Regions from separate parts of the Homo sapiens genome. Here region 2 is linked to region 1. The links come from fine-mapping of genetic effects on gene expression. A gene starts in region 1. The other region holds a variant in brackets. All regions are shown on one strand. Distances are between the middles of the regions.

Region 1 (2,895 bases):
CCCAAAATATTTTAAAAGGTAGCCATCTGTGAGGCCAGGCAGATCTTCCTGCTGGGCTCCTGGTGAACTCTAGAATGTGGTCAAGGGCAGGCACGGGAGGAAGCCCTGCAGCAGTGCACCATGGGGCGGGGGGAGTATGGACTCCACCTGCGCAAATTAAATTGGGGAAGGGTTGGAAGAGACAGATCATACACTTAGGAGAGTTTCGGGTGAGAGGACCAAAGGCCGAAACACTCCCCCAGCTTCTGATAAGGGCCTGGAGAAGCCTGGCAGGCACACAGAGCCTTCACCTTTGCCCTGGAAGCCAAGTTGTGCCCTTGCCCAGGATGAGGTAAATGGCATGAGGGACACCACGAGCTCTTTGGTTCTTGTTTCTGGAGACAGATTTTTGCTTTTTCACCCAGGCTGGAGTGCAGTAGTGGGATGAAGGCTCACTGCAGCCTCAACCTCCCCTACTAAAGTGATCTCCCACCTCAGCCTCCCAAGTAGCTGGGACTACAGGTCACAGACCACCACAGCCCACTAATTTCTTTCAATTTTTTGTACACTCCGAGTCTCACTATGTTGTCCAGGCTGGCCTCCAACTCCTGGGCACAAGCGATACTCTCCCTTGGCCTTCTAAAGTGGTGGGATTAAAGGAGTGAGCCAATCGCACCCAGCCACTGTGGCCTCTTAGATCTGCTTTAGGATTTGGCGCCTGGGGGCTTCTGTTCCCCAAGGACCACTATCCTTGTCTGAGGCCCCTTTGGAGGGCTCAGGGCATCCCCCCTGGCCAAGGACGCCACACACTGAGAGCCAGATGCTGCCAGAAGCTATTACTGTTATTACCGGCCGGCAGCACCCGCTACAGCCACAATCATAAGAGGGAAATGGACTGAATCCCCACACCCCAATCCCTCACCCACTCCGACCCCAGGCTGCCTACCCGGCCTGGCATGTCCCGGCGCTCCTGGGGCCCCTGTACTCCGCTGGTTCCTTGCCGTGGTGTCCCCCAGCCCGACCCTTTCTGTGCTTCTAGGAGCCCACCTTGGGCGGCGGGGAGGCGTTGCGTGGGGCTCACGAGTTCCACGCTGTCATCTCCACCAGCTCCTACCTCCCAGGCGCCTGCCCTCCCGCACTGTCAGGTTCTGCCTCCGCAGCATTTGGCAGATCTGAGCCCGGTCCCTGTCGCCCCTCCGAGGGAGCCTCACCCTGGCCCCGGACAAGAAGCAGCAGAAGCCCACAGGCCACCGCGCTCAGCCGCGCACGAAGTCTGTGCAGCCGCATGGTCGGCTCGCTGGTCTCGGTTCGCTGCCGGCGGACACGCTGCTGTTCACCCAGAGGCTGCCCCGGGTCTGTCCAGCAGTGGATCAGTGCCTTGCCCAGCCTTGGAGTTTGGACTGGGCAGGGAGTCAGCGGGGTGCGCTGGCTTGGGCCGGGAAAGGTGGGTGTGGTAGGAGAGCGGGACTGAGCAGTCATAGGTGGGTGGGGATCTAGTGGTAGGCAGGCCCGGGCACGGCCACTTTCCTTTGCCCGGGCTCCTTTGGCATCCTCGGAAGGGGCTGTGCCATTCCTGCAGCCCTTCCGCGATCCAGGGAATCCTCTCTTCAAACCTGTCCTTGTCCACAGGCCCGATGAGCGCGCTGGGGGATCGATAGGAGGGGGCAATAAACTAGAATTGGAGACCCCAGGAGGGCTTCTCTGAGGATGTGCACGTTCAGGATCCCCCAGATGGAGAAATGGGAAGGAACTTGATCGGGGTGAAGGAACCGCTTGAGCAAAGGCAGGAAGGAGTGTCGGCGCCCTTCATTCTGGAAGTTCCTCCTTGCTTTCAGGACTCAGTTTCCTGGGTTCCCCTTCACGGCCCCTCATCTCCTTACAGTCCAGGGTCTGAGGGTCTCCGCGGTCCCCTCCCTACTCAGTCACGCCATTCTTTTGAAACGTACACGTGACCGCGGCACTTCTTAAGGAGCGCCCCCCTTTTCCTCGGTGGCTTTCAGTTTCCTCACCTCCCGCGGAGACCACGGCCATGGTCATTTATCCACTTGACAAACATTTCACGAGCCCCTGCCGGTCCAAGCTGTGGGGACGCCGTACTCCCGGGCCTATGGTGCAGCAGGGGAGGCAGGCGCGTCACCGGGAGGTCCCGAGACACTAGGATCCCTGCCAGGCCAGAGGCGACCAACCGTCCTGGATACGGGAGCTCCCGGCCAGCCTGACTTCCAGGAGGAAGCGGTGTGGGGATTACCTCCGACCGCCTTTAGTGCCCCCTGAGACCTGGTTCTGGCCTCTACGTTTCAGCCCGCTACTGGCTCGCACGACCCAGCGCCGCCGTGGTCCCTTCTCAGCGCCTTCTGCTCCAGCGACCATCATGTTCCCGGGTCCGAGCAGCCAGGGCCGCGGTCACCGCTTCTCTCGCACCTCAGGCCGAGAACCCACAACGCGGCGTGTCCCTCGCGCGACTCCGTCGCCACGCCACGCCCCCTTCCCGTTCTCCGGAAGTGCGCGGGTTGGAGCGGAAGCGCACGCCTGCTAGGATCAGCGGTGGTGGTTCCGCGATGGTAGGCGGCGGCGGGGTCGGCGGCGGCCTCCTGGAGAATGCCAACCCCCTCATCTACCAGCGCTCTGGGGAGCGGCCTGTGACGGCAGGCGAGGAGGACGAGCAGGTTCCCGACAGCATCGACGCACGCGAGATCTTCGATATCCGCCGCTGCTGGGCGCGGGCGGGTTCCGGGGGCTTGCGGTGGGGGGAGCAGTGATATCGAGCAGCTGGTGGAGCCGCATCCCAGCAGGGCGTTCCTGGCAGAGGGTTCTAAGTGGGCAAGGGCGCAGAGTCCCTTTTCCTTCACTTCCCACATCTGATTCGCTCCATCAATGACCCGGAGCATCCACTGACGCTAGAGGAGTTGAACGTAG
Region 2 (2,906 bases), 860 kb before region 1:
GAGATCACGCCACTGCTCTCCAGCCTGGGTGACAGAGTGAGACTCTGTCTTAAAAAAATAAAAAAGAAAATACCTTGTATGCTGTGGCCAGGGAGCGTGGGCTGTATCTTGAGGGCAGTAGCAGTGTGGGGGGCTGTGGATCTACCCATGCTTTTGAGAGTGAAGAAAAGAAGAGACTCTGCCAGTCTGGTTCAGCCAGGCTTCTCTGGCCAAGAGCCCTTGTCCAGGGTGGGCCAGTGACTTTAGGTCTTTGGCTCTAGCATGGTTTTCTCATAGCGGTTGTCTTTTTTTCTCTTGGCTGTTCCTTTGGTATGAAGAGATGAAGGGATGGGGTGTGAAAGACTGGTAGCCAGGAGGCTTCTCAGAGGTGAGAGGACTCTGCTTGTGCTGGAGTTCTGGTATTTTGGTTTTGCCAGCTCCCATCTGAAAGACAGTAATGCCCCATGTTTTATACCCAAGCATCTCCTCTGGTGAGCCAGAATCAGCCAAAGTGATTTTCCATGGAGACCTAGAGAGCCACTGTTAATTAAGATATCTTGATTAAGATCTCACCTGCCACATTCCTGGTGTGGAGGACCATCTAAGCTTAGGCCCTTCCAGCTGAGAGACAGCTGTGGCTGGCTTCTCACCCTGGATCCCCTCACCAAGTTCCAGTCTACATGCATTGTACAGTGCTGTTGAGAACTTTGGTGCTCATATGTCATCTGGGGAAGGCGTTGTCCTGCCCGCCCTGATAAGAAGGTGCTGTCCTTGCCCAAGGTAGGTACAGGCCGTGGTTGTGCCCCATTTTCCCTTACTGCCCCCCGGAGTTGATGGTCTTACAGGCAGATGCTGAGCTTTGGGCTGCACTTCTACTCAGGTAACACATTGTGCTATTTGTGGAGACATGGAATGTTTGGGTTCTGGAACACAGGGTAGGATGTTTGGGTTCTGGAACACGGGGTAAGAGAACTGGAGTCTAGATGGTGGCCACTGTTCTTTGCTTTTTTTTTTTTTTTTTTTTTTGAGAGAGGGTCTCTCTCTGTCACTCAGGCTGGAGTGCAGTGGCACAATCATGGCTCACTGCAGCCTCGACCTCCTGAGTTCAAGCAATCTTCCTACCTGAGACTCTTGAGTAGCTGGGACTACAGGTGCATGCCATCATGCCTGGCTAATTTTTATTTTATTTATTTAATTTATTTTTTGAGACAGAGTGTTGCTCTGTCACCCAGGTTGGAGTCCAGTGGAGTGATCTCGGCTCACTGCAACCTC[C/T]GCCTCCCAGGGTTCAAGTGATTCTCATGCCTCAGCCTCCTGAGTAGCTGGGATTACAGGCGTGTGCCATGACACCTGGCTAATTTTGGTATTTTTAGTAGAGACGAGGTTTTGCCATGTTGGCCAGGCTGGTTTTGAACTCCTGACCTCAAATGATCTGCCCACCTCAGCCTCCCAAAGTGCTGGGACTACGGGTGTGAGCCACCATCCCCAGCCCTGGCTAATTTTTAAATTTTTTGTAGAGACAGGGTCTTGCTATATTTCCTAGGCTGGTCTGGAACTCCTACGCTCAATCAATCCTCCTGCCTCAGCCTCCCAAAGTGCTGGGATTACAGGCATGAGCCACCACACCTGGCCTGTGGCCACTTTTCTGGTAGGGCCTCCCTCCTCACTGTATGTTGCTACCCAGGCTCCAACTGTGAGCTGAGAGTGGGGAGCGTCGTTGCCTTCTTTATAGCTGGGGCCTTCTTGGTCAAGGATTAGCTTTTAGAGAAATTCCTAGAATTCACTTCACCTCCTGCCTTTCTGCCTTGATGGTGTTTTTGTTCTCTGGAACTTTTGGTCTTTTCCCTGTATGGGTCATGGTGTAAGGGAGATTCCTTGTTAGAAGAGAAGCAGAAGCTCATCAGGCCAGAGCACAGGAGGATGAACCTAGCAGCCCCATGTGGCAGGCACTGTGTGCCATTCCTATTATGGGACCATTGGGAAGGAATAAAGGGCTCCAGAGTGGGTCTTGTGTGGTCGGGTCAAGTTGGAAAGAAGGGACTCATCAGTGGAAGAGGGATGGATAATTATGTCTAAATGCAAAGATGTTCCTCTGCCTCTCCATTCTGTTCAAAATCCATATAAAATGTCTTTGTAATTCTAGGATCGTTGGTGTTGTGACTTGGTGGTGGAACAGAGCCTAGCCCTTCTGTCATGAAGGGGCCAGAACAAGATGCTCTGTACTATATAGGGAAGTTGGGAGGGGACTGGGGAAGCCCTTGGCACCCCTCTTATGCCATTTCTTGTTACTTAACTCTTGGAATTAGAGATGCTTGGGGTTTCAGGGGAGTTTAGTTTAGGTCAGGGGTGGCAAGTGTGAAGGCCCCAATACCCCACAATACCCTCAGCTTCTATGACCAACATTACTGATTGACAGTAGCACTTGTTCTTGTCCAGACAGAGCCCAGAATTTTTCTCAATGCACAGCACATCAGGCAGCTATAATTTACTGGTCAGAGTTTCATCATGAGATGAAATCTACTAGCCCTCAGGGTGGAGGTGGTTGGAAGATAAGTGGATAGAGGCCCAGATGGTTGAGGGCTCAGCTTATTTCTTCTAAAGGAGAGTCCCAAGGCAGAGCTGAACCAAGAGGAAAGAAACAGAGGGGTTGGATTGCTGAGTAGAACTGATTCTAACCCAGTTTATAAAGCCATGTATCTGAAATTGGCATGGACTTTTTAAAAAAATGGAATGCCCTGTTTTTATAACAACTTGCACCAGTAGTTTGTCAGTAGTTATATTTACTTTTATAAAAATCAAAATAGGCTGTGTGCTGTGGCTCACACCTGTAATCCCAGCGCTTTGGGAGGCCGAGGCAGGCGGATCACAAGGTCAGGAGTTTGAAACCAGCCTGGCCGACATGGCGAAACCCTGTCTCTACTAAAAGTAAA

The links. PIP is the estimated chance that this variant, and not a neighbour inherited with it, causes the effect.
Region 2: its variant is the best candidate, but not a certain one, in a credible set for the expression of CES2 in visceral fat (GTEx, PIP 0.59).

The regions. Positions count from the first base shown.
Region 1 is chr16:66,934,007-66,936,901 of GRCh38, reverse strand. It overlaps CES2 (carboxylesterase 2), which reads right to left and starts at 1,386. Exons shown (of 12, transcript NM_001365405.1): 1 at 1,191-1,386. The coding sequence starts at 1,266. CIAO2B (cytosolic iron-sulfur assembly component 2B) reads left to right here and starts at 2,500. Exons shown (of 5, transcript NM_016062.4): 1 at 2,500-2,679; 2 at 2,836-2,895. The coding sequence starts at 2,538. RefSeq lists enhancers at 1,164-1,776, 2,615-2,814, 2,845-2,894.
Region 2 is chr16:67,796,089-67,798,994 of GRCh38, reverse strand. All of the region lies in intron 2 of RANBP10 (RAN binding protein 10), which reads left to right. Among named protein-coding and RNA genes, the nearest start is that of RANBP10, 9.0 kb to the left of the region's middle. The variant C/T (reference allele first, on the strand shown) is at 1,252.